Linked DNA regions of Homo sapiens: region 2 is linked to region 1. The links come from fine-mapping of genetic effects on gene expression. A gene starts in region 1. The other region holds a variant in brackets. All regions are shown on one strand. Distances are between the middles of the regions. Region 1 holds the start of DGKD (diacylglycerol kinase delta). Region 2 overlaps DGKD (diacylglycerol kinase delta).

Region 1 (17,113 bases):
CCTTCTTACTATATCTGTCTCCCACCCTCTCCAAATTTTTCCATTTTTTATGTCTCCAGGCTTCCTTGTGGGTATTTTCTTCTGAGCTATCTTCTGGTTCACACAATTTTTTCAGCCTGGGTCTAATCTGCTCTTTTTTTGGTTAGTTAATTTTGATCACTATGCTTTTTCAATTTTATAATTTTCTTTTATTGGCTGGGTGAGGTGGCTCACGCATGTAATCCCAGCACTTTGGGAGGCCGAGGCGGGCAGATCACCTGAGATTGGGAGTTCGAGACCAGCTTAGCTAACATGGTAAGACTCCGTCTCTATTAAAAATACCAAAAAATTAGCTGGGCGTGGTGATGGGCACCTGTAATCCTAGCTACTCGGGGGGCTGAGGCAGGAGAATTGCTTGAACCCAGGAGGCAAAGGTTGTAGTGAGCTGAGATCATGCCACTGCACTACAGCCTGGGTGACAAGAGTGAGACTCCGTCTTAAAAGAAAAAAAAAATGTCTAGTATCTTTAGTAGAGGCGGGATCTTGCCATGTTGGCCAGGCTGGTCTCAAACTCGTGACCTCCAATGATCCACCTGCCTCAGTCCAAAAGTGCTGAGATTATAGGCGTGAGCCATCTGGCCAGTGTGGACTAGAATTTTCATCTGGTTCTTTTCCATAGTTTCTAGTTCTCTGCCAAAACTCTCCATCTGATCTCGTGTCTCCTCCAACACAACGAGCACAGTTGTTATAAAGTCTGGGTCTGGAGTCTGGAAGCCCTGTGGGTCTGTCTACAGCCTGTAGTTTCGACTGGTTTTAGCTCAAGTGCCTCGCCTCCCTTGATGTCTATTTTTTTACTGTATGCACAATCATGAACGTACAAACAGACTCGTGAAAGTCATTAGAGGCCTCCATTGATAACTGGGAGGATTAGAGGGAGATATCTCCCTCTAGAGAGGATTAAAGTTTGCTTCTGTTGGGAATCTAGAGACACTAGTACACTGGGATTACTTTAATTTCAGAGGACTGAGGTGATTTGAAGCAGGGCTGCAGTCCTTCCAATACTTCTGGCTCCTGCGCATTCCTTGGAAGTGGCTTCTTTGGATCCCAATCCAAATTGTGAGGGGAGGGTGTCACCCAGGACTGTTGCCCTTTGGCAGAACCTGGCACCTCAGCCCTGCTAAGGCACTCAGACAGTCTCACAGGGCTCAGCCTCTTGGCTCCCATGTTTTGTTCAGGGCCCAGTGTTCTTTCCCCAGGGCTGCCCTAGGGCTGCCATAAAACTTCAAGGCTTAAAACAAAACTTGGAAAAAAAAAAAAAAAAAAAAAACTTGACTGTCTCACTGCTCTGGGGGCTGGAAGTCGGAGATCAAGGGATCAGAAGGCCGCACTCCCTCTAAAGGCTCTAGGGGAGATTCCATCTGTTATCTCTTCCAGCTTCTGGTGGCCCCAGGCATTCCTTGGTTTGCATCAACGAACTCTAATCTCCGGCTCTATTTTCCCATAACCTTTTTCCCAACATGTCTTTCTGTCCAAATCTCCCTCCCCTTCCTCTTATAAAGAAACCAACACTGGATTTAGAGTTTCTCCTAAGTTCACGATGATTTACTCTCAAAATCTTTAATTAGCCAGGCACAGTGGCTTGAGCCTACGCTCCCAGCTACTCAGAAGCCTGAAGCAGGAGGATCACTTGAGCCCAGGAGTTTGAGACCAGCCTGGGGAATATAGCAAGACCCTATCTCAAAATAAAAAATTTTGGCCAGGCACAGTAGCTCATGTCTGTAATTCTAGCACTTTGGGAAGCCAAAGGGGGAGGATCGCTTGAGCCCAGGAGTTTGAGACCCCAAGCATGGGCAACATAGTGAGACCCTCGTCTCCATAAAAATGTGTTTTTAAATTAGCCAGGCATCATGGAATGCATCTGGAGTCCCAGCTACTCAGGTGGCTGAGGCAGGAGGATTGCCTGAGCCCAGCCAGAGACTGCAGTATGCCACTGCACTCCAGCCTGGACGACCGAGCAAGACCCTGTCTCAGAAAAAAAGAAAAAAAATTTTTTTAAAGATATTTAACTAATATCTTATTATGTGGGCATCCTGAAGTTCTAGGTGGACCAAATTTGGTAGAGATGCCAAATCCACTACAGACGCCACTACAGATTCCAAGGTCAAAAGCAGCCCCAAATACCACACTCACTTCCACAGATCTTCAGCCACCCCAGATCCTAGTCCAGAAATTCAGCATCATCTTATTAGCAGACTGTGCTTGGAAGAGTGGCGCTGCAGTCACTCAGCTCACCACTGCCAGAAGCAGAAGGCACTGCTCCCTACTCACCTTCCAGACCCAGCCAGTCACTGCCTCAAGAAGCCCTCCTAGACCTCCCTGATATCAGGTCAAATTCACCTATGATGTCCTCTCAAAGTATTCTGGCCCTCTCCTCATCAGCACCCGTCCCCATCACAACTTCATATTAACTGTGTGATTGTTTTATTAATGTCTTCTAGACTATCATCTCTAAAAATTTTTGTTGTTACTCAATAAGATACCCCTGGTGCCTCGCACAACAGTTAACAATGTTAAGATCTCAAATATTTGCTGTTAAACTGAACCAGTGAAATACAAAATGTAATACCTAGCCCATGGTATTCCCACTAGTACTCAATAAATTAACGATTTCTTTAAAAAATGGTCTTTGTTAATTTTCAGCCAGATTTGTTTGTATTTGCTCTTCTGGAGCCGAGAGATGGAGACTCAGACCAGCCTGAGCTGGAGAAAAATGGAATCAGGGAAATGATTCCTATCTGGGATAAAAAAAAAAAAAAATCAGAAAGACAAAAAATAACCAAAAGCAACCATTTAGTGATCATTTACTATACATCAGCCACTATGTTAGGTGTTCTACACAAATTATCCCATTTAATTCTATGAGTTAACATCCCCATTCCTATTTTATGGATATAACAACTGTTATTTCTATTTTACAGACATGGAAACTGAGACTCAGGAACACAGAGTTAACATTTACTTTCACTACAACCAACCCAAGAACTAATATTTTCCATGTTTACAGATGAGGAAACCACGTCTTAAGGGAGGTTTAGACACCCTGTCCACAATCGCATGCTTCATAACTAGAAGCGCAGGGTCTGAAGTGACTTCATCTGACACCAAAGTTTAGACTTTGAAATCCGACAATAAAATGGCATTAAAAACCTTTTACATTACTTCATCCCTACTAGGATGGCTAGTATCAAAAGAGAGATAATAACAGTTACTGACAAGGATGTGGAAAAATTGGAACCCTCCTCATACACAGCTGGTGGGAATGTAAAATGTTACGGCAGCTTTTTAGCTGGAAAATAGTCCGGTAGTATTACCATATGGCCCAGCACTTCCACTCCTAGGTGTATAGCCAAGATAAATGAAAACCTATGTCCACACAAAAACATGTGCATGAATGTTCACAGCAGCATTATCCAGAATAGCCAAAAAGTAGAAATAACCCAAATGTCCATCAACTGATAAATGGATAAATAAAATACAGTGTGCCTGTAGAATGGAATATTACCCAGCAACAGAAAGAAATGAAGTACCGATACATGCCATGACATGGATGAACCTTAAAAATATTATGCTAAGTTAAAGAAGCCAGACCACATATTGTATGATTCCATTTATGTAAAATGACCAGAATCAGCAAACACAGAGACAGAAAGTAGATTCTTGTTGCCTATGGTTGAGGGAGTTGAGAGGAAACGGGGTGATGAAAATGTTCTAAAATTGACTGTGGTGATGGTTGCAAAACAGCGAATATACTAACAACCACTGAACTGTATCCCATGTGAATTATATCTCATAAAACTGCGGTGCATTTTTTTAAGTTTTTTACAACTTAAACCCTTTACCTAATTTTTACTAGTCTTCATTTCACAATGGAAAAAATGCTTTGTTTAAATTTAAAATCAGGAATCCAAGCACTTTCATGCTCATATCCAAAAAATGTTAACTTTCTAGAAACTTTTAAATAAATTAAACTCTTTTAACTGATAGCTTTGCAGAATTACACGGTTCTTCACTGAAATTTCAAAATACCTTATAATGTGCTGGTGAATGTGCTGGTCGGAGTGTTAGCTCCATTTTCTTTCTTTCCATTCTAGCTATGCAGTTCTACAGAGTCATTACTGTGTACTGTAGTCAGGAAATACAAATGAAGTAATGTCTTTGCTGTGGACAGCTTCAACTCTAAAGAGCTCGAACATATTAAAAAATCAGACATGCATGAAATGCTAAACTGATAAATGGCCATCACAAATCTGCACACATCAAATTTTCAATATGCTAAAGATCTATAACCTGAAGAATTATTTGAAGTTTGGAGAGGCTTCTCTTTACATGTGTGCCATAAGGTCTTGTTTTTCAAAGTCTGGTCCATGGACCAGCAGCATCAGCATCTTCTGGGAGCTTGTTAGAAATGCATATTCTGCCAGGTGCATTGGCTCAAGCTTATAATCCCAGCACTTTGGGAGGCTGAGGTGGGTGTATTACTTGAGCTCAGGAGTTTGAGACCAGCCTGGGGAACATGGGGAAACTCCATCTCTACAACAAAATACAAAAATTAGCCAGCATGGTGGCATTTGCCTGTAGTCCCAGCTACTTGGGAGGCTGAGGCAGGAAAATCACTTAAGCCCAGGAGGCAAAGGTTGCCGTAGCTGAGATCGCACCACTGCACTCCAGCCTGGGTGACAAAGTGAGACCTTGTCTCAAAAAAAAAAAAAAAAAAGAAAGAAAGAAAGAAAAAGAAATGCACATTCTAAGGCCCCACCCACCCTAGACCTACTCAACCATAATCATCATTTTAACAGGATCCCTAGGAGATGTGTCTGCACATTAAAATTTGAGGAGCACTGCCCTAAGACATTCTCTTTTGTTTTTCTCTTCATTAAGACAGCTCTGACTTGCACTAGACTAATATTTTAAAAGCCTGACATACATACAGTTCTGGTCCTGGGCCAGCTTGTCCTCAGATCCATTCTTTGTCCTTCTGCTCCAGTCCAAGTTGTGGAGGAGGTGACCCCAGCAAGGCCAGGGTTCCCAGGCAGGAGGGGAACAGTACATCCGCAGCAGCAGCTGTGCCCTTGCAAGGCTCCAGCCACTGCCAGATGGACCCCTTGTGACCCCAGTTTTTGGTGGGTGACAGCTGTCCCTGGAGTCTGAAATGCCATCTCCTTCCTTCACCCTCCAACTTAGGGGTGGCAGCAGTTTCCTGCTTGTTGCCTCATCTCCGGCTTGCCTCATTGCAGCCTGCATTCTCAGTTCTCACATCACCTGTGTGACCACTCCCCTAGATTACATTCCTTCTGTTCCAAATACTTAAGGTGAGTTCTGTTTTTCTTTTTAGACTCAGACTGCTACCCCATACCATTTTTGATGTTTCTATTATGTACCATAGATACCAGAGGAATTTTGTGAATGGCTTATCTGCTGGAAAAAAAAAAAATGGAGCTATTACATACAGTCAACCTCGCATTCCCACATTCTGACAATCTCTTAACAACTCAGAAGAAAAATCAGCCTTAAGCTATCTGTACAGCAGATGTGACTGTATTCAGAAACTCTAAGTCCTCGGGGTGTATTTTTAACAGTCTACCCATCACTCCTCCTCAACCAGAACAGCTGGTATAGCAGCTATTGTTTTAGGAGAAAAAAGAAGGAAAGCAAAAACACCTCCTAACCAACAAAATTCTAAACACTGGAATCTCCCAGGAATCAAATCTCTCTCAACACAATCTTGATCTTAATCAACCTTGTAAATCACATGATCTACCCCACACTGGTCAGTACCTTGCCTGGGCAACAGGAGAAAGCAACTCCTATCAGTATCATTTAGGGCTATGTGGAGATCTTCCCAAAAGCACATCTGATCCATCACCCCCATACTTTGAACAATCCTCTGTGGCCACCTCTTGCCCAAGGCCAAAAAGCAAACCCCTCAAAGGACCACCCCTTCGAAATTCAGCCCTAACCAACCCTTCCAACTAATAAGTCTAATCAACGTGATCCACCTCTGGCCCAACTTCTGATCATTTCGCAGTTGTGCCTAAAGCTCTAGACGCAAGGTTCAAATATGTAGAAGGCCATTTCTTACCCACTTAGCCTGGTGAATTCTTTATCCCTCAAGATCTCACCTTAAAGGAAACCACTCCTGCCTCCCCAGGGCAGGTCTCTGCCCCGAGTTTCCGCGGCACTTACAATGTTGTCATGTCAGGTGCACAGGCGTCCATCTCCCAACTAGACTGAGAATCCCTAGGTGTAGAAACTGCCTTCCATCTTACGGTCCTGACCATGGTTCCAACACACATCCACATTTACGACCTGTGACACCCTGGGCAAGTCATTTAACCTTGATTCTATTTCTATTCCAATTCCAAAAGACGGAGATGATAGCATCCAACTTATTGGGTTCTCACCAGTACTAATAAACTAACCATGTCAAGTGCTGTAAAGCTAACCCAAGAAAGTGCCTGGCACATAGAAGGCTTATTAAAGAATTGTTATTTGCTATTGCTATCATTATCATCACTACTGCTACTGTTATACCCGGAACAAAGCAGGTGTTCGGTACCTATTTGCTGAATAACTGGAGCACTTCACAACAAACCTGTTTGTAACATGTTAGGACCTCAGGTTCCCCCATCGCAGGTATCAAAGGCTGACAGAAGAGAAGGCTCCCACGGTGAAGGGAACGGCTGAACCTAATCCGCCCCGGAGGAAAAGCGCACTGCAGCAGGAGGAGAAAGTCCGTGCCAACCGGATCTGCCAGAGCTGCCCCAGGGACCCAGCCTGCTCGCAGCCACCTGTCCAGCCACCTGCCTGAGGAAGCAGTGTTCTAACCGGGCGGGCTCACCTGGAGCAAAAACCGTAAGCTGTTTTCAATAGGAAGCACAATGGGAAAACAAACGGTGCAACTTTCCTCCTGCAAAAAGGACGTGCGTCTTTATCTAACATTTAGCGTCAGGAGTTCTCCGTGGAGAGTTGGGTGCCAAGCGGGTGCGCGGTCCCGGCTTTGCTGAGAGAGACGGTCACTGAACGCGCATCCCTTCCTTCCCTTTTGGGATGAAGGGGTGAAGGGGTGATCCCTCGCACCCGGGTCCGAGCGGACTTCTGAGGGCACCACAGGGAAGTCTGCAGGGCACTCGCGGGACACCACCCGACCGCTCCTGAGAAACGTGCAGAACCGGGGTTTGGGGACCGCGGACGCCCGCGGGGCGCAGCCGGGAGCCCCCGCGTGGGACCCGCTCGGTGGCACGAGCGCAGTCCCCTGCATCTAGGCCTCAGTTTCCTCCGGGTCCTCGCGGCCCAACTCGGCGCGCGCCCCCCGCCCAGCGCGCGGCGCCCGGGGCGCCCACCTGCGCGCCCCCCGCCCGGCCCCACAGCCGCCCGCCGTCCGTCGGGGGCCGCGCGCTCCGCCCGGGGCGCCGGCCCGTTACAGCGGCGGGGCACGCTCGACAGGGGCGGTGACGCCCGCGGGACCCCGGGCCGGGCCGAGCCGGGCCTGGGCGGCCGCTCGGGCAGGGCCACGGGCCTCGGCCGGGGCTGCCGCGGCGTGAGGGGCGCGCGCCCGGGCCGCCGCGCCGCGGGCTCACCTTCTGTCGGATCTGACCCGACGTGGACACCTTGCGGATGAGCTTCTGTGGGGAGCCGGGCTCCGCCTCGGGCTCGCTGTCGGACGACTCCTCGGGCGGCGGCGGCGGAGGCGGTTGCGGGGGACCCGGCGGAGGGGCGCCCGCCGCCGCCGCCATGCTGCCGGGCCAGCGCGCGCACCGCGGGCGGGGGCGGGGCGGGGCCGGCGGGAGGGGCGGGGCCGAGGGCGGGCCGGGCCGGGGGCGGTGGGGGCGGCCTCCCGCCTCTCCCCGCCGCGCCCCCTGCCGGCCATGCGCGCAGCTGCAGACGGCGCCGCGCGGCCCCTCCCCGCCCCCACCTGAAGCGTCCCGGGCCCCCCGCCCACCTCTCCGGGCCGTGGCTTCTGTGTGTTATTTCTGGAACGCCGTTTGTGTTCTTGTTTCTATATTCACTTCTTAAAACATCTCTACTCTTCCGCATCAGAATGTAGGTAACCTCAGGCAGGCTGGGGCTGTGTCTGTCCTGCCCAGCCTTGTGTGGCCGAGTTTGGGGCGAGCTCGAATGCGCGCGCGCGTGCTGGAAAGAGACCCCGGTACTGGGACGGGCCTCGGGACGCCAGAGCTGGGATGCACCGCTCCATCTGGGAAGGCTTCCTGGAGAAAACGGTTCTTAAGGAGAGATGGAAAATGTGAGCAGGAGTTGTGACTAGAGAGGGAACCATGTTCTAGGCAGAGACCAGATTTGTGCAAAGGCCTGGAGGCAAGAAAGAACGAGTGTTGGGCGAAGACGGGGGAAGAAAGGGAAGCTGGTGCTTAGAGCAAGGAAAATGGCATTAAGATATGAGCCTCGGGGCGGGCAGGTCGAAGCGGGCTTTGGAAACCAGATAAGGGGATGGAAGGCAGCAGGAAGCCCTTGAGGGATTTAACCCTGGGCGGGGCTGGGTCACCACGCTGGGGCCTGTGATCCGGGCTTTGAAGTTATCAGGGCAGGTGGACGCCCTGGATTACCGAGGGGCTGAGAGATAGAGACGTGGACTGAGATCCAGGTGGGGAGTGACCAGCGACTGGAGGGAGACAGAGGTGACCAGAACGAGTCCCATGTTTCCCAGGGGGGCTGCTGGATGGTGGGCGGGTGGGGTCCAGCGCTGCTCTGGGCAGAAGAGGAGGAAGCGAAGCTGGAGATGAGATCAGCTAAGTTTTTGGTGCCATCCAGGTGGAGCAGGGCTTGGTGCCACCCAGAGGAAATGCTGTCCATCTGTCTGCCCTGCTCTGAGGGGCAAATCAGTAAGGGACTGCCCAGGTGTGCCCTCTCCCTGTCAAAGGGCTGCCGCTAGAGACCTCGCCTGCCAATAGGCATTCGCTGGCCGCGCCGCCCTGGGCAGTGACCTGGGGCTGCAGAGTGGCATCTGGCATGGGGACACGGCCAGGGGCATGGGCTCACGGCCAGGACAGAGGAGGACAAGGCCTAAGGCAGGAACAGTCCGGGACAGGCCGAAGGCCCCATGGTGCCCCAGGGTACTATAGCCACTAGCCACATGTGGCTACTTAAATTTCAATTAGTTAGAATTCAGCATTCCGTTCCTCAGCCACAGGAGCCACATTTCAGGGACTCAGTAGCCGCATGTGGCTTAGCAGCTGCCACGCTGGATAGCACAAATATAAAACACTTCCCCCGTCCCCCCAGAAAGTTCTGCAGCACAGTCGCATGCTGAACTGTGTCCTCCCGTAATTCATATGTTGAAGTCCTAACCCCCAGTACCTCAGCATGTGACTGCATTTGGAGTTAAGGTTTTTAAAAAGGTAATGAAGTTAAAATGAGGTCACAGGGGTGATCCCTAATCCGGTATGACTGGCGTCCTCATAAAAAGAGGAGATGAGGACACAGACACACACAGAGGGCAGCCCATGTGAAGACACAGGGAGAAGATGGCATCTACAAGCCAAGGAGAAAGGCCTCCGATGGAACTCCCCCTGCCGACACCGTGATCTCGCACTTCCAGCCACCAGAACCGAGAGCGTCAATTCCTGTGGTGGAAGCCGCCCGGCCTATGGTGCAGTGCTCTGGCAGCCCTAGGGAACTCATGCAGGCACAAAGGGCTCCAGCCTCCCCACAGGGTTGGGACTTTTCTATCAATTAACTACATGTGGAGTGATACACAGAGGCAAAACCCTGGAGGAGTGTGCAAGGCGGAGGAGGGGCGGGGACGCACAGGGGAAGAAACAGTTCATTCCTTCATTCCGCGGGGGAGCCGGGTGACCTGAGCAGGGTTTGGGATTGGAATGGAGAGGTCAGATATGAAGGGAGTTTCCCAGGAAAACGCAAAAACGGGGAGACTACCCCTACCAGGTGAGCAGAGCGGGTGACGAGGGATTTTGGTGAAGCCGGTAGCAAGGCGGGTGCGGGAGGCAGGGAGGTGAGCAGCGGCGCCAGGATGCAGAGTAGCCTCCCGGCCCTGCTCTGAGGCAAGGACTTCAGTCCCGTGGGCACTGGAGCTGGCAAGGGGGTTTGGGAAAGCAGAGGAACTCATGTGTCTGGGCAGAGAATGATCCATAGGAGAGAAGACTAGAAATAGGGAGGCCATTAAAATGCTGTTGCCGGCCGGGCGCGGTGGCTCACGCCTGTAATCCCAGCACTTTGGGAGGCTGAGGCAGGCGGATCACGAGGTCAGGAGATCGAGACCATCCTGGCTAACACGGTGAAACCACGTCTCTACTAAAAATACAAAAAATTAGCCTGGCGTGGTGGCGGGCGCTTGTAGTTCCAGCTACTCGGGAGGCTGAGGCAGGAGAATCACTTGAACCCCGGAGACAGAGGTTGCAGTGAGCCGAGATTGTGTCACTGCACTCCAGCCTGGGCAACAGAGCGAGACTCCGTCTCAAAAATAATAATAATAATAATAATAATAATAAATGCTGTTGCCTACACCTGTTAGGAGCTCAGGGGACATCCAGGCCCCAGAACTCATCATTTTAGAGTCAAGGAGGCAAGGGCATGAACGTGACGGTTAAGAAGCAGAAACCGTGGCTGGAGAGGAGGAAATCTGCAATTACCAGAAAGTACTGAGATTGTCACAGACAAGAGGAGCCAAGGAGACATGATGACTAAACGTCACGTGGGTTCCTAGATGGGATCCCAGAACAGAAAAAGGACATTAGGTAAAAGCTGAGGACATCAGAATTAAGTATGGGGCTTTAGTTTAATAATAATGCATCAATATTGATTCCCGGGTAGGAGGAGGGTGAGGATTGAAGAACTACCTATCGGGGATTATTGTGCTGATTACTTGGGTGACAAAAGTATCTATCTGTACACCAAACCGCCATGACATGCAATTTACCCATGTAAAAAACCTGCACATGTACCCCCTGGACCTAAAATAAAAGTTGGAAAGAAATAAGTATATTTTACTGGAAACAACATTTGAGTCACTCAGTGTGGCAAATGTACCCTACTCATGTAAGGGTTAATAATAGGGGGTTTTGGGTGTGGGGGACCTCAGTATAACATCTTTGCAACTTTTCTGTAGATCTAAAACTACTCAAAATAAAAAGTGTATTTTAAAAAAAGAGGATTAGGCTTGGTAAGAATTATATTCTTAAAGCAAAGAAAACTGGCATAAATGTTCTTTGATGATGAAGCAGCTTTTTTGTTCTCCTGGTGAGCGCACAGCGCTGTTCCCCTGGAGATCTCAGGAAGGGCTGAGACATCAACTCCCCCAAAGCGGTGGCCTGGAAGAGCACATTCCCTCCGGTGCCTCTTTATTGAATGAGTCACACTATGAATCATCTCTAACGACAGCCTGCTCCCTGAGTCTACCCCACCTTGAGGGCATATCAAGATGGCAGTAATAACACACTTCACGTCCAACCTAATTCTTCTTTGTGACACGTCAGTGAAGAGGCGCAACTCCTGTCAGAAAGAACCACTTCACATTGGAGAATATAAAAGGGAAACTTGAAAACATGGGAATCATCCAATTTTTACCCTGAACTAGGGTCATGATTGTCATTTGGAGCAGCACATTTCTCCACTGCATGTGACATAGAGCTTCTGGTCCCCAAGCATGTGAAAACCAAAAACCACCATACACATTTCCAAATGTCCCCAACTCCCACCCCGCACCTGCCCTACTCCTCAAAGATCAGTAAATGCGACTCAGTCCTGTGAAATGAAACTGGAAGGAAGAAAGGTTTTTTAAATGTTAAAGGAGTAGGAAAACAGACACCCTAAAAAGGAATTAACCACACATGTGACAAAATTGCAGAGAACTGAATACACACACTAGTACAAATCCAGTTGTGGAGATCTCAGTCAGATGAGCAGACTGGACCCACGTCGATACCCCGCTGGGATATTGTACTGTAGCTTTACATGATGTTGCCACTGGAGGAAGTTGGGTAAAGCGTTCCTGGGGTCTCTCCGTATTACCCCTTACAACTGCATGTGAATGTGCAAGTCTCTCAATGAAAATTTCTTTTTTTTTTTCTTTTTGAGATGGAGTCTCGCTCTGTTGCCCAGGCTGGAATGCAATGGCACAGTCTGGGCTCACTACAACCTCCACCTCTTGGGTTCCAGCGATTCTCCTGCCTCAGCCTCCTGAGTAGCTGCGATTACAGGCACCTGTCACTATGCCCAGCTAATTTTTTGTATTTTTAGTAGAAACGGGGTTTCTCCATGTTGGCCAGGCTGGTCTTGAACTCCTGACCTCATGATCCGCCCGCCTCGGCCTCCCAAAGTCCTGGGATTACAGGCATGAGCCACCTCGCCCAGCCTGAAAATTTCAATGGAAAAAAAAAATAGCAAGGGCCAAGGGCAGTTGTTGTTGAATCCTAAATGCTAATCTCCCTCCCCCCACTCCACCAAACTCTCCTACTTCCATTCAGCACCATACAGTGGGCAAAGGTCTAGTTATAGACTCAGGGACACCAGCATTCAAGCCTTGACTCTCACTAGCTGTGTGACCTATGTGTAAGGTACATAACCTTTCTGAACCGCAATTTCCTCATCTAAGAAATATGAATGATGCTACTGATTTATAAGTACTACTGAAATGGTTACATGTCAGATGTGAAGTACTTGGCACAAGGTAGGCACTCCATCAATAGCAGGGATCCATCCCCCTTCTCCAGCCCTTCATTGCTGGTTGCAGAACTTTCTCCATGCAGCACCTTCAACTGCTCTGTACCCCGTTTCTTGCACTGCATCTGTCCCAAAAACTCTGGGCCACACATTCAACCTGCACGTAGACTTCCTGCCTCCTGATACCAAGGGACACTACATGCCAGTAGACAGCCCCACACATGTGCAGGCTGAGCTGAGCCAAGCTTCCACTTTCTGCTCAGGGCAGCTGGCTGCTCGCTTCCTCCCCCAACTCCCTCCCCAGCGTGGCCAGCTGCAGGCCATAAACAAGCCAGCACCTGGAGGGCGTATCGAGACATTTTGGCACCAAAATAACTAGGAGGGTAAGGGCTGTGCTGACCTCTGCTCTCCAGGGATTGGTCTTCCAGCCCTTCCCTCCAGCTCTCTCACCCACGTAGTTCCAAAGGTCGGGCTTATTAACGTCCACCCTGACTTAGGATGTCCTGGGGTCAAGCAATGCAGGAACCAACGGGCTGGTCCTCTCACCAGGCACCACAGGGCAGAATCCCAGGCCCTGGGCTAGCCCAAGAGCTCTAGCAGGAGCTAAACACAGCAGCCTGTGTGCTGTGGCAGAGGACAGGGGAAGGGCTCAGTGCAATGGGGAACAGCTTTGGGAATCCTCAGAGGAGTGTGCCACCCTGGCCATCCCTTGTCTGCGTGCCCTGAGGGGAGCATGGGTTGAAATGGTCGTGCACCATTACCTTAGCATAGAGAGAAAAAGAACGAGGGACTGTGTCTGATCCTGCTAACTCGCAGCCTGAAGGACCAATCTTCCACCTGTAGTCTAGTGTATTATAAATCCTCCTCCCAATGCCAGGATGCGTGAGCCAGCACACGGGTCCACACCTCGCTTTGTCTGGGATCCCATCCAAGCTTCCCAAGTGGAGCCTCCTCATCTAAATCCCAATCTCCAGGACCCGAACAGCTGGAATCCTTCTGAACAACCCCAGATGCTGGGAACCTTCATGTGTATGGAACCCATACCCTGGCCAGCCCTCTGTCGCCATGTTCCATCCCAGAAGCCTGATCCACGTGTACTCCCCATCTAGAACCCCTCCCACTCACCCTCTGCCTTCTGTGAGTGGGTTGAACTGTGGAGGAATCTCCAACCCCCCTTTACCCTGCTCCCTTAAAGCATGGACCAGAGATGGACCAGAGCCTATGCATCTCCATCCTCTCCTTGGCCGCCATGAGCCTGTTCAGTATCTGTGCCATCAGCAGCAGGCCCGGTGGGTACCTCAGGGCAGGAAGGGACCCCACAAAGGAAAGGCCCTGGTATCACCTCTATTATCCCTCCTCCACCTGCAGTTCACCTTCCTCCCTGACACTCAGAGTGCTCTCCCCTATGCCTCTCACGCCCAGTCTCAGTGAAGCACGCTCTAAGTAAGCCCATGTGACTCACAATCAACCCCCTTTTCTGGGACTCTCCATCTCCAGGGCTGGGCTCTGCCATCGCTGACCACGGGGTGTTGATCCTCCCAGCCAAAGCTGAGCCAGTTGGATTCTCCTTCCCAATAACTGCCCACTGGGACCAAGAGACGCAGAGCTGGGAACGTATGGTGCTGAGCTGCATGAAGAGCCGCCCTGGAGAGTGGGTCCCTGACCCCTGAAGCTTCTCTGATTCCTGCTTACCCCAGGTGTGGCAGCTCAGGTTTGTCCTTCAGTTCTCTGATCACACCGGGGTCCTCCCACTACATTCCTTCTCCCCACCTTAATTTAACCAAATCTGATTTTGCTTCTTGCATTGAATAGAACTTTACCAACAACCCAAAGCTCAAACAGACACCTGGACCCAAAAGTTGAATCATTAACCAAGAGTATTTTTGTCCACAGATGTTCTCTGCCCTATTTAACTTAGGAGGCTCTTTAGGGGCCTGGAAGTTGGGACTGGTCAGGTAATTAGAAACATACACTGGTGGCCAGGCGCAGTGGCTCACGCCTGTAATCCCAGCACTTTGGGAGGCTAAGGTGGGTGGATCACCTGAGGTCAGCAGTTTGAGACCAGCCTGGCTAACATGGTGAAACCCTGTCTCTAATAAAAATACAAAAAATTAGGCGGGCATGGTGGCACACGCCTGTAATCCCAGCTACTCAGGAGGCCGAGGCAGGAGAATGGCGTGAACCCGGGAGGCGGAGCTTGCAGTGAGCTGAGATCACGCCACAGCACTCCAGCCTGGGCAACAAGAGCGAAACGAAGGAAGGAAGGGAGGGAGGGAGGAATAAAGGAAGGAAGGAAGGAAGGACAGACGGACAGACGGGAAGGCACTGTTTCCAGAGAAACAGCTCAGACTGGGACTCCTAGGAAAGCCCCTGGACACACCGAGGGCCCCACCTGGTGAGCACATTGATTTCCAGACGCCTTCTCTCCCTCATGGGAGTGGTGAGCCCTTCCGTGGGAGGCTGGCCTCCCTCTCCCCAACCCTCCCACTCCAGGGACCCTAATGGTGGCAGCTTGTGTCATGTCATCAACTCAGCCTCCCCAACAAATCAACCAACTCATGACCCAGGGGAGAACAAACAAGCTTTATTTCTCGGAAGAAGACTCATCCTTTCATACGCAGCATAACTCCAAAGGACTAAACTGTGGGGCTTTGCTCGTTGCACTGGTAACTACAGGTCATTTTCCGGCATCCTGAGCCGACATCTTCACTCATCAACGTCATTCTTGTCTCTCTTCCCCTCCTCAGCTTCTCCTGCATCTTTCAGATTATGGCGAGCAAACTCCTCAAAAACTAAATTTGCATCCTGATAACTAAAATAAAACAAACAACATTTTGATCATTGCACGCCCTTTGAAGCTGAAACTGAAACAAGATCCTTGATCTTTTTGCAACGAAGGAACTGATCAAGGTTTTCCCCATGATAGAACATGGGGGCACGCCATTTTCCTCAAGGCTTCGTTTAAAATTCCTTTAACTAGCACCAATGGGAGAAAACAAAGGCACGCGCAGAGTGAGCAAGCACACCCAGTGTAATGGTGCGTGCGTGCCGTAAGCACTAGGGAGCAGACGGGAAGTAGCGGATGTGCCTCCTGAGCCGGCAGGAGAGCTTGGGATATGTGCAAAGACTCAAAGAGGGTTTTGTGCTGGAGGAGAAGGTCCCAGAGCATAGGACAAATCAGGGCCACATTCAAGAGGCTCACTCACCTTTCCTTAGCTGTAAGCATGGAATAAAAGGGAGGCAGGGAAGAGGGAGAGAGAGACATTTGTTAGTCTAAATTCTATATCATAGCTGTACCTAGAAAATGTCTACCTTTTAGGTGACTTTACAATTTGAGAGATAAGGCCTAGATACATGCAGTTCATGATCACTGCGTGTAATTCCTGCCTCCCTGCCTTTCCCACTGGAACAGCTTTTCTCCTTGCATTTTATTTATTTTATATTTTATTTTATTATTTTATTTTATTTGAGACTGTCTCTCTCTGTCACCCAGGCTGGAATGCAGTGCCACAATCTCTGCTCACTGCAACCTTTGCCTCCTGGTTTCAAGAGTTTCTCGTGTCTCAGGCTCCCAAGTAGCTGGGATTACAGGCATGCGCCATTATGCCTGGCTAATTTTTGTATCTGTAGTAGAGAAGGGGTTTCAACTATGTTGGCCAGGCTGGTCTCAAACTCCTGACCTCAAGTGATCTGCCAGCCTCAGCCTCCCAAGTGCTGGGATTACAGGCGTGAGCCACTGCGCCCGGCCTCTCCTTGCATTTTAAATCACTGCTTCCTTTACAATGTGCCACAGCCTTCACCTCCTCACATGAAACCCCCCCAGTCTCAACTCTAGGATGCTTTCCCTGATCAGCCTTGCCCCCTCTGATGTCGCTTCTCCTTTCTTATTTATTTATTTGAGATGGCATCTTGCTCTGTTGCCCAGGCTGGAGTGAAGTGGCACAATCTCGGCTCACTGCAACCTCCGTCTCCCAGGTTCAAGTGATTCTCCTGGCTTAACCTCCCAAGTAGCTGGGATTACAGGCACCCACCACCATGCCTGGCTAATTTTTGTATTTTTAGTAGAGACGGGGTGTCACCGTGTTGGCCAGGCTGGTCTCGAACTCCTGACCTCAAGTGTTCCGCCCGCCTTGGCCTCCCTGCCCAGCCAGTTGCTTCGCCTTTCAAAGTATTTCTCCTTCCATGTCCTCGGGACCCCATTGAGGTCAGGGTCGCCAGGGTGCCGTGAGCATGTGCACCCTGGCACCTCCATCTGTCAGGCTTCAGAGGCCTGAGACCTGGGACTTGACGTTCACCAGCACCCCAGGGTTAGAGTGTGCATTAAAGCTTGAGGACCAACCCCCAGCCGCAAAGTTTTCAATTTCTGTTAACATATTGATTTTGTTGTTGTTGAGTTATGTTTTCACATGTGTTGTATCCCCAGACTAACTGCTATTAATTT
Region 2 (14,663 bases), 91 kb before region 1:
TGGTTTCCAGCTCCACTCCTTAAGTGGAATCTCCACGACTTCTCAGCCTTCCTTATCAGCTACCACCAGCTGGGCAACTGCTCACTAATTTCTCTAGTTAATCCTGAGATCTGTTTTCTATGCACTAGCAGCCATGTAACAATATGCCCACTCGGTTTATCCCTCATACTCACAGGGTTTCTGGTTCAGAGTTGAAGGGATCAGCATTAATTAACAGGCGACTGATGACTGAGCCACCGGGTAAGGAACCAGACATTCCAGCCCGGACATCTGTAAAGGAGATACAAGAAAGAGGTGGTGCTGGTCAGGAGCTACAGCCTTAGGAGAAGCTCGTGTCTCTGAAGCTGGTGGACCGGTATTCTGCAGAACGTTATTATAATTAAATGTTTCTAAAATTATGTATAACCATGTCCAAATTTTGCCAATAGTCTTAGGTCAAAAATCACTGGAACAAAGAAACCATACTGGGTGGCAGAAACCAACACCTACAAAACACACAAAAAAATGGCTTCTAAGGTGTGTGCCTGTGGTCCCAGATATTTGGGAGGCTGAGTGGGGAGGATCACTTGAGTCCAGGAGGTCAAGCTGCAGTGTGCCATGACCACATCACTGCACTCCAGCCTGGGCAATAGAGAGAGACCCTCTTTTAAAAAAAAAAAAAAAGGCTTATAGAGTCAGTTTTCATGTTCTCATTAAATGTAAGCCACTCCACCAAAATGATCTCTGAGAGTTGAGGCTTAAGGCTTTATAAGGCTGCCTTCCTAAGGAATGAATATCAAGGAATGCTCCAGGCGGCCAGGACCTCACCCTCCCTGCGCCTCCTGCGACCACGCTAGAAGCACGGGATGGTCCCTCGGGTTCCCTCATCAGGCCGGCCACCTCCCTTTTCCACTCAGATAATTCCTTAATTCTTCCAACCCCGACTCGAGCATCACCTCCTCAATGGCGCCTCCTGGGCTCCTTGGGTGGTTATTTGGGTACTATCTGGCTTTTGTTTTTTGTTTTTTGTTTTTAAAAAAAAAAAAAAAGCACTTTTCATACAGTCGTGTAAATTTTTCAATTCCACCTATCTTTCTCAGGGGCCTGTAAACTCTCCGAGGGCAGCGAGCCCATCTCTTTCAGTTTGACGGGACCAGTGTTGTGCTAGGGCCCCCACCAGTCCCTCCTGCTGGCCGCCACTCACTTGGGTACAGGATCTTGGTGTTGAGCGCAGGCAGGCCGTCCCGGCTTCCCGGCTGGGGCGGAAGGGAAGCAGAACTGCCTAGGGACAGACTCCCTTTGCTGATCAGCTTTTCACACGGAGATTTCGACACTGTAACAACACAGCAGAAAACCTTACAGCTGTGTGGAATAGAGACTGTGAAATCCTGGGGGGTCCTTAGCGACACGAGCAGGTGGGAGGGCTGAGGAGGGAGGGCTGCAAACCACAGGCAGTTGCGTGAAGTGTGTGGGACAAAGAAGGGGGCGGAGGACCGAGTGGGTGCACATGTTTGGGGGGCTGGGCTCATGGAGAGGTTAACACAGGCCACAGGTGGCAGCGCTGGAGGGAGGGGTGAGCCCAGTCAGTCCGGGCTGTGGGAGGCGGAGCACACACACAGCAGAGCTCTCAGTGGTGGCCATGCAGTGGCCATGGGTCAGTTCTGAGCATGGGCCTCCCAGCAGCCTGCACAGGCTGGGGGTGCCCTCCACCAGGGCCTGCGCTGTGGGCTGTTCCAGGAGGGGCAAGGACAAAGAAGGCCCACGCTCACCCACCCGCCTTCCCTCTGCCAGACACAGCCCCTTCTGAGCAGTTCTGGGGCCCAGTGTGGTTCCAAGGAAGCAGTGAGGGCAGGACGCAAGTGCTCCTCAGGGAGGCAGTCCTCGCCCTGATGGAGGGGGTCTCGCGGGTTCTACTGCTGTCCACCAAGACAGACCGCACACACCCACCTCAAGGGCGCGCACAGGAGATGCACAGAAACAGGCCTTGGGCGCTCAATTTTTATGTAACCAAGTGGCCAAAGCAACTATGAGAAAGTGCCCTAAAACCTCCCCTGGCAAGCCCGCTACGTCTCACCAAAACCAAGCACACGACGGTGCGCAGAGGGAGGTGGAGGCACAAGTACCTTTGCGCTGGCTCCTCCCCTTGGGGACCCCGAAGCTCTCGCTGTGGGACAGTGGTGGGCACACTCTGTGGTCCATCTTCTCCTCTGACTCAGAGAGGCCCAGGACGAAGCCCTCCTGCTCCTGGGTCTGGGCATTCTGCTCATCGACAGCTGTGCAAGGAGAGTGTGTGCGGCTGAGCACGCGGGTGCAAAGCCAAGGGCGCTGTCAGGCTGGGTGGAGGGCCCCTCATCCTCACCCCACGGCCTGATCTTCCTCAAACAACCTCTGGCTAAAGGCTTGGACTCCGAAACCCCACCCCCACCCATCTTCCCCCTGGTCCTGGCACTGGGGCAGGGCGTCCCTGCTAACAGGCTGGGAGGTCTGGAACCCTTGCAGGGGAAGGCAAGGGATGCAGAGGAGCCTGGCGCAGGCTGGAGGGCTGCAAGCGGGAGGAGCGGCTGCATGGACACGCAGGTGTGCGGGTGTGAGGCCGTGACCTCAAGGCTCTCACGGGAGTGAGACGCTTATAGTGAAGTCAATGAGGGCCAGGAAAGAGGTCGAGGGGAGGCAGCATGAAGGGGTCTGAGGGTGTGAGAGGAGGGGTGGAAGGAGGGCAAGCGAACTCGTTGGGGGTCTGGTGCCTGGACATGGGTGGAGAGGGCCGCAGTGGAGGTTTTCTCAACATGCACCCTTCTGTCATCTCCGTGTTCAGGGGACGCTGGGCATGCCCAGTGCTGGCCTGAGGAAAGCCCCTCCTCATCACAAGGCCAGTTACCTTTTTCTGTGTGTTCTATGATCTGACGAATTGCTTTCTTCAGGCTGTTGGCTCTCAGCATGAGCTGTTCTCGAGGCCGGAATATCTGCGGCCGGGCCGGGCAAGCTGATGCCACCAAGCGGTCTCCGGTGGAACCGCAGATGCTGCCCGACCCATCTCCATCTTCAGCCTCCTCGGCAATGGTGGGGGGCGGGTTGGGCAGAGAGGACGAGGCCTGGGACTCATCGTCCAAGGTCTTGAGAAGGGAATCCAGCTTCTCTTTCAGGACAGAGCACTGAACAAGGAAAGGAAATGGCATGCAGAGCTGAGGCAGGAGAACAGGGTCTGCAGGCAGGGAACCTCAGGCCATTTCACCCAGACTTCCTAGAACTCGATCAAAAGGAAAATCCTAACTCTCCACGCCTAAGTAACAAAAAGACCAGAGGCTACTCCCTTTGCAAATCCCCACCTTTCCCGCCCTGGCAGGTGGGAAATTGGGGAAATTGGCTGTCCACAACCAACCATACTGATTGCGAGCTGAGTCTTAGTCTGCATAGAAATGCAACTTTGTAACTTCACCTTAGCCTCTGATTGGTTGCTTTTTGCAACCAATCAGATGTTTGCACAGGAGTGTGACCTTTGTAACCACTTCAGCCTCTGGTTGGCTGCTTTCTGCCACCAATCAGACTGAATGCAAGCTACCACTTCATTTACATGAGGTGAGCATGAAGTGGCCAATGGGATACTTCTAGGGGGTATTTGGACCCAAGAAGATTCTGTGTCTGGACCCTTGAGCCGCTGCTCGGGCAGCTCCCACAGTGTGGAGTGTACTTTCATTTTCAATAAATCCCTGCCTTCGTTCTTTGTTGCTTCATTCTTGTCTTCCTTTACTGTGCGTTTTGTCTAATTCTTTGTTCAAATCACCAAGAACCTGGACAACCTGCAGTCACGGCCCTCTGCTGGTGACAGAGCAAGCTTCTCGCTGCCTCAATGCCCCTCCCACCCAGGGCACGGGAACAGACCTTCTTGGCCATGACCTCTGACTCCTCCGAGCTCTCGGTCGTCTTCTCATAGGCCTTCCCCACCCGTGCCACGAAGTCCTTCACCGTCTCACAGAGCACTCTGTGGGGAGAAAAACAGAAAGACCCTTCTAGAGAGGCAGCTCCAGGCTGGGGGCCAGGGCACCATGCCCTCCCCAGGGCCACCAGGCACTCACTTGGCCGAGGAGATGACCACCGAGTGCTGGTCCGAGGTGAGGATTTTAGAAAGGTGGGCTGCAACCGAGTCTTCATAGAAGAGAATCTGCTGTACCTGCAATCACCCCAAATGGCCAGGACTGTTGGTCTCTGTGACAGCAAGCTCCATGACAGTCCCAGTGACTCTGTCAGCCACTTCCTTGCCAGCACAAGCTGGGAAAGATGAGTCTCTCCTAACAGACACTGTCTGACCCAGCCAAGCCTCAACTCACTTCTAACGCTAATCTGGGACTCACCTAGTGCTAGGTGAGAGATTTTAAAAGCTTCGTCAAGCTGCAGGCAAACTGCAAATGAATCTCCTTCAGTCTGCGATCCCAGCACGGCCTGTGCTAGGAGCTTCCGTCCTGACCCCTACTCATCCTGACAGCGGCATGCTGGCGGGTCGGCTCCAGGTTTGGGTCCGTTTGCAGCAGAGGCTGTTTCCACCTGGCTGTGAGCCCCATCTGGACACACACTCCTGCCCCCACCATCTGTTCTGGCTGTCAGAAGGGCAGCCCTATCCCTGTGGGATCCCTGCTGTCCTTAGGACCCAGCCCCAGGGTCGCAAACTTCACTACTGGCCAGACAGCGAATATTCTGGGCTTCCCCCACACACTCTTCCTCTCAAAAAAAAAATTTTTTTTTAAAAAAAGGAAAAATAAAAAATGTACAAACCAGTCTTCGCTTGCAAGGCCGTGGGCCCAGGCACATCTGGCCTGCAGGCCTTGTTTGCTGACCGTTGCCCTAGCCCCTGACAAAAGCTCACCTCTTTGTACTACCCCACCCAGCACTGCACCAGCACAAAATAGAAACTAAAGACAAAGTCTGTTCTCTGAGGGAAACTGTAGGAGCGTTAAACACAACAGTAACAATCACCAAATGAAAAGAACCACCAGCTGGACTAGAGGAGCCTGAGCGAAGGGCAGCTGCAGACGCCACAGAGAGGTGGGACGGGGCAGGAGCCGGGGGGCTAGGGGAGAGCCGCGGCAGAGCCGGCTAGAGCATTCCAGGCACGTGGGCACCGCGGCGGGGGAGGGAACGGGCGCGCACCGTTTGGGGCTCACTGCGCAGCTGAGGAGATGCACGGACAGGGTGGAAAGGCCATTAGGAGGACCACCCCACCACCCGGCAGGGCCTATGACAACCCCAGGAAGCCCCTAGAGGGTCACAAAGCCCAAAAGGCCCCTGCCAAGGGGAGTGAGAATCCTCTCAGCCATGGGTTCACCCTGCGCCTCCGCAGGCCTGACTGTGACACCCCAACACCAAAGGGGAGGCGTCTCTGCAAGGGAGGTGATGCAAACCGCTGACAGGACAGTTCTGATCACATCAGCATGCGAGCAGGGTGTGAAGAACAGGCCAGCAATACCTCGGAATCCTCGCTGAAGTCTTCGGTGACGGTAGAGGAGGAGGCCTGCCGGGGGAGCTTGGCCTCGTATGCCATGACGCTCCACCTGCACACACAAGGTCAGCTGCACAGGCGGCAAGACGTGCAGGCCCACAAGGGTGAACCCTGCGCCGTCCGCTTTCACGGCTGGCAGCCTTGATCTTTACACCGTTTCTGACTTCATTTTTAGGCCCTTGGTCTTGACTCTGTCCCATAACTTGGCTGAGAACAAATGTCTGCACTCCACAACTAACGGCAGTACAGCTCCATAAAGAGAGGAAGGTCTCCCATAAATGGCTACCTTGAGATAAGATGCTGCTTCTGGGAGAAATGGATTTACCCTCCTCAAGAGAGCTGCAAATGGCTCAGCCAGCTGGCCCAGTGAGATGAGCATTTCACAGGCCCCAAGGCACACAGAGGAGGCCTGAAATGGTGGGGGCATTGCAAAACCACAACTGTGCTCAGAACTCCAGGCTTCTGGGAGCAACTAGGAAGGCTAGGAGGCATCTCATCAGCACCCCATGTGCCACAGGCATGTGGTCAGTGAGTGCCAAGTGTGTCACTCGGGACAACAGTACCTTACTCAGGGAAGGTGTCACAGTGGCTTTAGGCAC[T/C]AGAGGATAATTTCCCAAAACTTCTTCTGGGAACAGAATATGAGAAAATGAAACTGTTCAAGTAAACGACAAGGAGCATTCTTCCGATGGGTATTAGATCTCGGGCTGAAGCAGCCAAAGATGGCACAGCTGCCTTCTCCACGGCCCTGACACACTCAGGCTTGGCCTTCTGGGAAGACTGGATCATCCTAGGGCATGGCTGGTTCTTAACCTGTTTTGTTTTTATCCTTGTCATAATCTGACCAAATATCAAAGACTATCCGAATATATACTCAGGTCAAATCTTTACAAATAATTTCAGAGGGCCCATGTTTTCCACAGACCCCAGGTTAAGAACACCTGGTCAAAGGGACCTGTCTCTCAAAGTCTCCTCATACGGCACCGGAGCACATCCCCACTCACCTGTCCAGCATCTTGGTGCTGGCTCTCTCCAACTTCTCCAAGATCTGGGGGAGCTGGGTGTCGTCATCGCAGGCTGAGCCCCAGCCCAGTACTCGGGCCAAGTCGTTCCCTGTGCCGAGCGGCAGCACTCCCAGCTGACACTAAGGAAACATGGGGGACGATGCGCAGGCAAACACCTGGGGGCAGGGGCCACTTCCCAGCCCGCAGCCCTCCTTGTCCCCCACCGTGAGGGTTACGTTAGCAATGTGGGGACGTGACCTAAAACCACGCAGCTTACACATTACAGGCAGAGCCCACTGGAGGGGACAGATGGCATTTTCCTTGGCAATGAGACAGAAACATGACTGCCCTTGAGATAAGATGCTGCTTCTGGGAGAAATGGATGAGCCACAGGTCCATCTCTCAGCTGTCATCACATCTTGATGGTCAGCCCCTCACACCCTCTCTGATCTGTCTCCCAAATCCCTCTGCTTCCCATTTTCACCACCGTGACCACAGCCCCAAGGAATCACTCTGATGCCTCGCCACCCGTCCCTCCATCCACTACAGCATCTCACTCACTAATGCCAAATTCTTCTTCCAAAAACATCACTAGTATCACTTCTCTCCTCTAAATCCTATCCAAAAAAGGTGCCAGGACCATCCTCAGTCTGGAGGCTACCCTGGAGCCTTGCCAGAGCTCAGCCTCTGCCCGCCTGCCTGCTGTTCCAGGAAGAGACCTCATGCATTACTCAGGCCTCACCCTCCACCTGGATTCCCATTTCAGAGCTCCAATGAGATCCCACTACACCATTCCATTGCTTAGGAGGCCTCTTAAAATGCCCACTGCCCAGAGCTCACCAGCCTTTGACTCTGACAACAGAGTGACCAGGGCCATGAAGGCTGCGGTGGAGTGTGTGGGGAGGCGTTACTGTCCTTGAGGCAGGAAACCTGCCGTGGTCCAGCCTACAGCACCGTACAGCCCTCTGCCCACCAGGTGGAGGTGACCATGCTTGAGGCCCTGCCGCCTGTGGGGACAGCAAACACCAGGGAAGGTCCTGCCTCACCAAGGGGACATTTGGCAGTAGGGGAGGCAGGAGCGAGCAGGCCAGGACACCGGAGCCGACACACTAGATGGAGAGAACCCAGTGCTGAAGGGTGCCCAGAGGGTCTGAGGACTCCGCGAGGGCTTCCTGGAGCCTTAAAGGAAAAGGAGAGCAGCGCACAGCAGGCATGGATGGTGCTCCAGGCAGGGAGACACCACTGGGAGGGGGCAAGGCAGAGCTCAGTGAAGAGGAGGACAGCGAGGAAACAGGAGGCAGACAGGCAGAGAAGCAAGCAGGAGGCAAAGCTGGGACTCTTAAAGGTCTGGACTTTTCCCAGAAGCATCGTGCTTGGGGGGTGCACAGGCAGAAATGCCCCGGGAAAGGTCGCCTGGGTGAGCTGCAGATGGACAGAGGCCAGGGTACTGTGGGTGGCAGGACTGAGGACACAATTAGTGAGAAACAGGCAGGAGGAAGAGACGGACGAACCAAGAACAACTGTCCGATTTCCTGGCTCAGACATCTAGATGGATGATGTTTTCAGACTCGAAGGAAAGGAACGCAGGGTGGGGGCTGAACGTGGTGTAGTGTTGGAAACTCGAGGCACTAGGAGACATCCAGAGAGGCCCAAGGCTCAGCTATCAATTGAGGCGCCCCCAGGAGAGAGACGACAGCAGAAGCCCTGCAAGTCGCTGAGCGTTCAAAAGCGAAGGAGGAGAGGCCCCAGCAAGGCTCTGAGGACACAGCGTTAAGGGAAGGGTAAGGAGGGAGAGGCCACCATGGAGCAGTAGCAGCCAGGAAGACAAGAAACCCCGAGGCGGCAGGGGCCCAGCGAAGGCATGGCCACCACATCAGGTGTCAAAGAGACGCAGGGGAGAGAAATGTGTGCTGACCTTGGCTGAACGTATGAAAATCAGCCACAAGGTTCCACTGTCTTCCTAACTAGTGACAGTGAACTTGCAAGTAATACACAAAATCAAAAATTAGAGTAGTCTATGCTAATCCACCAGCAGGCGGCACCACTTCTCCTCCTGAGCCACTGGCCTCACGGCCCGAGCTGTCAAATCCACCCACCTGGAAATACTACCAAGTGAGCAGAGCTGGGTAGGCACCACAGAATCACTGAAAAATACATCCACGTCACACAGAAGACTGAATTTTTTAAAAATGGGGCCATAATAAACATAAGAAAATACAGATGCAAATCTTAATCTTGGGGTGTAGGCAGCTGCAAATATGACAGACGTTGACAAAAATCATGAAAGAAAAGACCACCCCCCAAAAAGGATGTTGAACTGACAAACGACAAACCGGGAAAAAAATATCTGCAGTGACAGATAAGAAGTTAATGTAACAATAATCCTCACACACCCATTTTTAAAGGAAAAAAAGGTGAATACTCAAAGAGAAAATGAGGCAAAAAAAAATATGAACAGGTGATTTATTTAAAACTTCATAACCAACTGAGGAGGCGTTCAACTTCACCAGGAATTAAAGAAGTAAAGGTCAGACATTTTTTGGTCTACTTAGCTGGACAAAAACTAAAGAGATGAACAGCTTGGATGGTGCACGGGGAAAGACAGCTTTAAAGGCATCAGGCATGGAAGCTGGCACAGCCCTGAGGAAAGGCAGTTTGTCAGCACATTTCAATACTTAAGCTTGGGTGCGCTCAGAGAGGAGACCACTGGGAAGTGATCTCCGTGCTCACACATGGAGGTGAGCTGGCCCTGGGCTCCCGGGTGTGTCCAGTGGAAAACGACACACAGATGCCTACTTACAGACACAGGCACAAGGTGTCTGCAACATCTTAATTAGTGGTTTTTTAAAAGCAGTAACAGGCCGGGCGCGGTGGCTCATGCCTGTAATCCCAGCACTTTGGGAGGCCAAGGTGGGCGGATCATGAGGTCAAGAGATCGAGACCATCCTGGCCAACATGGAGAAACCCTGTCTCTACTAAAAATACAAAAATTAGCTGGGCGTGGTAGCGTGCGCCTGTAATCCCAGCTATTTAGGAGGCTGAGGCAGGAGAATCACTTGAACCGGGGAGGCAGAGGTTGTAGTGAGCCGAGATCGCACCACTGCACTCCAGCCCAGCAACAGAGCAAGACTCCACCTCAAAAAAACAAAAACAAAAACAACAACAACAAAAGCAGTAACAGAATAGCCCGTTTAAATTACAAGTGCACTGTGCATTGTATGTACTGTGATCAAGAGAGGTCAGAGACAGCAAAATGTTGGCACTGGCTGATCACCTGGGGAGGCCGTGGCTTGGTGTGGAAATTAAATGACTATATGAACATTTTTATACACAATCAGGAAAATCTATTTTTATTTTAATACAAAAAACTAAGTCCAATGAACCATGACTCTGACTTGAGAAACTCAAGTATACTGCCGTCCCCTTCTCACAAGCAAGAGGCCTCAAGACAAAAATTACCCAGTAAAGCAACAGCCCCACCCAGCCCTGCTCCCCATGTGGGTCCTTTGTGGGCAATTCTTTTCGTAGCTCCCTTCAGGTCCCCCTCATACATCATGGCCAGAGCCCCCGGGCCTCCACAATGCCAGGGGGTGGCCCAGGCTCTCCCCTCTCTGCCCTGGCCACCAAACTGCACACTCCCCAAAACCACCAATGGTTTCTGGCCTGAGAACAGGTGCTCCGAGATGAACAGGAGCTGAGACTGCATGATTTCCCTCTAACCTCCGCACCCTCTCTGCTCCTGGCTGGGCTCCCTCCTGTCCTGGTACCTGTTTATGAAGGTTGAGGCTGTCGATTTCGGAGAGGACCCAGCCAACACTTCCATCCCCGCCACAAACCAGAATCCGGAATGTGTCAAACTTCTGGAATAACCGTAAGCTGCAGAGAAAAGAGAAAGGCCGTGAAATGACATCCATTCCACAGGACAAATGACAGGCTTGTCAGTACGGGGCTGAGGGGCCACCTGTGCTCCTCATGGCTGACCTGCACCAGAGGCAGAGCACGCACAGGCCCTGCCACGTGACACCAGCCGCCTCCACTCAGGGTCCACTTTGTCAAAGGGACGACAGCAGCACTGGGGTCCAGCCAACTGCTCCCACCAGCCACGCCCCACCCAGCGACAAGACCACTCAGCTTGGTGAGCCACTGCACGCTCTGCAGACATCACAGGCAAAGTGGTGGGCCAAAACTGCATCCCCTGCCAGGCTCACGGGCACAGCCTGCCGTGGCCCCTAACCATGTGAGCCCACCCTGCGTCACTGTCCCTGCCCCATCCACATGTGGCCCCTGCCAGCCTTCCCAGCATGCCCTCTGGGCTGCCTGCATCACCCTGCACCCTCAGTCTTGGCACTCCCCGGCCCTGGGCCACAGTCTGGCTTCCGCCCTGGCCCTTGTTCTGGTCACCCTGGAGCCCCAGGCTGCCTGACCTGCTGCGGGCTGCGTGTCCCCACTGCAGCACATATGCCTGGGCCCACTCAGTCCTCCGGTGATGTGACCCACGCCTCCTACCCTCCTAACTCCTCGGTTTCCTTCCTTCCTGGGCTCCCCCTGCCCCTGCCCAGCAGCGTCCCCACTCAGGAGACCAGTGCCGCTTCTGCTCACTCCTCATCCTCTTCCTGTGTGACCACATCCAGTTTCAAGGACCACACAGGTGACTCTGGATCAACAGCCCCCAGGCCACTCCTGAAAGCCAACACTTGCACCTGTCCTCCAGAACACACCACTCTGGTATCCCAGGGCACATCCAACAGGACACATCCCTACTCGGAGAATGGTAGCTCGACCACCAACCCAGTCCAGAGGCCAGACCCACCTCCTCTCAGCCTGCAGCCGACCCAGCCCCTCCTGGCAGCCTCTCCTCCACACCCAACCCAGCCACCCGCTCAGGTCACCACCGTGCTCTCGCAGAGTCCCACAGGAGCCTCAGTCACCTTGACACCCTTCCTGAAAGCTCCCCATGAGTTCCAGGAAGACCTTTCTAAAACACGAGCCTGGCCACGGGCCTTGCTTTATGAGGCTGCCCCTCATTTGCAGGAAGGAGTCGAACCTCTTGGCCAGCACCCGCAGCCCTCCCTGACGGCAGGTGCCACCTTTCTGCTGCTGCCTGGCCTGGCCCCACTGCATTCCCTCTTGCCTCGCCTCTGCACAAGCGGTGCCCTCAGCCCAGAAGCCTCCCGCCTCCCTGCAGCCTTCAGAACACTAGAGCTCCTCGGATGCCAGCTCGGGGAGACGTGGAAGGACGCCCAGTTTGACTTGCGACCCTGCCCCCACCGGGTTCCCAGAGAAGCTGTGTCACCCCCACTGAAGTGCCGGGGGACCCTGCGTGTGCTCCTACCCATTCCCTGCATCTGCACTCCCCGCCTGGCTCACCTGCGCACCCTGCCTCGAGCTCAGTGTCTGACCCAGAATGAGTGCTCAGAAGACAGACAGGCATAGGTGATGCGGCACCAAGCCCAGGCTCCACACAGAACACTGACACCTGTAAGGCCCCCTGCTCTCGGGAGAAGAGGTGACAGGTCAAGGCCAGGAACTGGAACATGAAGCAGTAGCTCCAGATTCTGCTGTGAGCTGTGTGAGATGAGCTGCTTCCAGAAATGGTAAATGACGACTCAACTCCCCTTACGCCGCTGTGGGGGCTTCCTAAATCATCCCATCTCATACTTAACTCCCACTACGAAACATGGGGTTTTGCTTGCACACCAAAATGAATATTTCGTTATTCTCGAGTTCAGCTGTGTAACCTGCCCTGCCCACAGCCATTTCACAGCATTCCTCCAACACCCCTGGTACCATGTTTAATAACAACCTCAGCCTGCTTGGTGCATTGTGATAACAGACGTATTATATCTCCACTTTCCCCACTTTTTAACTAAAATTATTTCTTTGCCAGGCAGTGTAATCCAACACTCTTGAGAGGCTGAGGCAAGAGGATCATTTGGCTCCAGGAGTTTGAAACCAACCTGGACAACACAGTGAGACCACTCTACAAAACATTTTAAAAGTTTTGTGAGGCTCAACAAAACATAAAAAAAAAAAATTAGCTGGGCATAGTGGTACACACCTGTAGTCCCAGCTACTCAGGAGGCTAAGGCAGGAGGGTGGTTTGAGCCCAGGAGGTTGAGGCTGCTGTGAGCCAGGATTGCACCAGTGTACTCAGCCTGGGTAACCTAGCAAGACTCTTGTCTCAAAAAACAGTAAAATTAAAATTAAAATATCTTGATCAGCCTACTAGTGAATGCAATCCTCCACCATTCAGATAAGAAGTCTTTCTACAGAAAATGTGGGAGTACTGCCTTTGCGGAAGCAGGCTGGAATGCTGCCATCTGTGACTGCTCTCCGACTGCGCCTGGCTGTGAGTGGGGATGAGCAACACAGAAGACACCCACAGGACCAACGACGAGCAGCATGTTCCTCTTACCCTGGCATGTACGCCAAGGACACGCAGGGAGCTGGCCGAGGTTCACATCAGAGTAGCCCCTGGCTCCTAATACACAGACCCCACTGACTCCTCCCAGAGAAATACAGGCCAGACCACAGGCTCTGCAGGCACTTCCCACTACGGGTATCCTGGACATCTCCGGCAGTGCCAGCAAGTCCTCTTAGAGCTCCGACCTGGAACTGATGCTTCCAGAGGAAGAAATTCATTCAAATGGCAAAATTCACAAAGGCAAATGTTTTCTACAAACTTATGAAAAGTAAAAAACTACAAAGAACACACATGGCTCTCCAGCAAGCAGAGGAACAGTCTAATCTCTGTGCTGCTGATGCACAGTGGAAATCGCTCTGGCCCAACGCCGCCCTTACGTGTTCCTGCCTTGCAGCACCTGCACACCGAGCGGCCTCCTGTGCCTCTCAGCAAACACTCCTCCTGGCCTCGCTGCAGGACAGCTTCTTCCTCAATGTTAGGCAGCTGTTACAAAGAACGAGGCACGCCAGGAAAATACACCCACAGATAGATAGATAGATAGATAGATAGATAGATAGATAGATAGATAGATAGATAGATAGATGATAGATAGACAGATAAATAAAAAATTATAAAATGAAAGAAAATACACCCACAACGTTGTATGCAGACACATACAGAAGGCATTTGTGCAACGGCAGGTAAAGAAGAATCCTGATTGGCTCAAAAGATGCACGTGCATGGGTGTGTGTACATGGATGTATGTACGTGTGTGCACACGCGCACTGTGTTCAAAGTTGGAAGGCCATGCACCTCTATTAAGAGTGGGCACCTCTGCAAGTGCAATTTGGGAAGGAAGCAGTTCAACTTTTCTTTCCTATTTAAAGCTTTGTGTCTTTGAACTTTTTTTTTTTAACAAGCACACACTATCTACACAATTTTTAAAACTCCAAGAAAGATATATTTTACAAGCTTCCTACCCGAGGTGTGGGCCTCCGTTCATGAGGTCGAAGACCTGGGCGGGGTTTAGTAGCTGTTTGAATCTTCTGAGGAACTTCACACCCTGGTTGTCCCCACTTTTTGAATTGACGAAGACCAACAGTGGGCTTGTGCAAGAAGGAGGACAGCTGGCCTTCCAGAACCCTGGACGCAAGAACGAACAGAAGAAAATATATAGGCCACGGAAGACGCTGAGGGCACCACTGATGGAATCAGCAGCAGCAGACCCCCCCAAAGGACACACACCTGACACATGCACACCTGTAAGTCAGGAGGAGGTCAGTGAACAGTTCCCCACAGCCGGTCTCCATGTGTGAGGCCGGGAGCCCCATCCATCTGACCTCCACATTCACAAGCTGTCCAAATGCCACCTTTCTGCTGTCTTCTCTTCTTGATCTCCTCTGAGCCATGTACCCCACATCCCCCTTTCCACCAGTACTTGTCAACAGGTGCCACCATGTCCCAGCCAGACATGAGAGCAGCTGCAAGCCAGTGTGCCAGCATGTGCTAGGCAGAGATGGGGCACAGCTTCAATGGCTCATGACGGAGAAGGCCCCAGACCTGGGTTGCACTCAACAGCATCACCTCCACGTCAAGTGCCAGGCTCGGGTCTCAGGCCTGTCTAAGCCTGGGTGCCACTCAACAGCATCACCTCCACGTCAAGTGCCAGGCTTGGGTCTCTGGCCCATCTAAGGGCAATGCCGCAGCATCAGGGCGCCGTGTGCCGCTCTGTGCAACTCCTCCAGCACCCCCAACAGCTGTGCCTGACCTCTTGCTGACATCTCACCAA

The links. PIP is the estimated chance that this variant, and not a neighbour inherited with it, causes the effect.
Region 2: its variant is fine-mapped to the expression of DGKD in whole blood (TOPMed, PIP above 0.99).

The regions. Positions count from the first base shown.
Region 1 is chr2:233,345,178-233,362,290 of GRCh38, reverse strand. DGKD (diacylglycerol kinase delta) reads right to left here and starts at 7,797. Exons shown (of 30, transcript NM_152879.3): 1 at 7,617-7,797. The coding sequence starts at 7,772. It overlaps SAG (S-antigen visual arrestin), which reads right to left. Exons shown (of 16, transcript NM_000541.5): 15 at 15,879-15,888; 16 at 15,236-15,484. The coding sequence ends at 15,379. RefSeq lists a silencer at 7,608-7,847 and enhancers at 8,098-8,147, 8,288-8,347, 12,691-12,790.
Region 2 is chr2:233,437,571-233,452,233 of GRCh38, reverse strand. DGKD (diacylglycerol kinase delta) reads right to left here. Exons shown (of 30, transcript NM_152879.3): 9 at 13,855-14,017; 10 at 10,239-10,347; 11 at 6,472-6,611; 12 at 5,438-5,522; 13 at 4,053-4,147; 14 at 3,859-3,958; 15 at 2,858-3,131; 16 at 2,103-2,252; 17 at 1,184-1,312; 18 at 174-270. Among named protein-coding and RNA genes, the nearest start is that of DGKD, 90 kb to the right of the region's middle. RefSeq lists enhancers at 976-1,539, 8,476-8,525, 8,546-8,655. The variant T/C (reference allele first, on the strand shown) is at 6,070.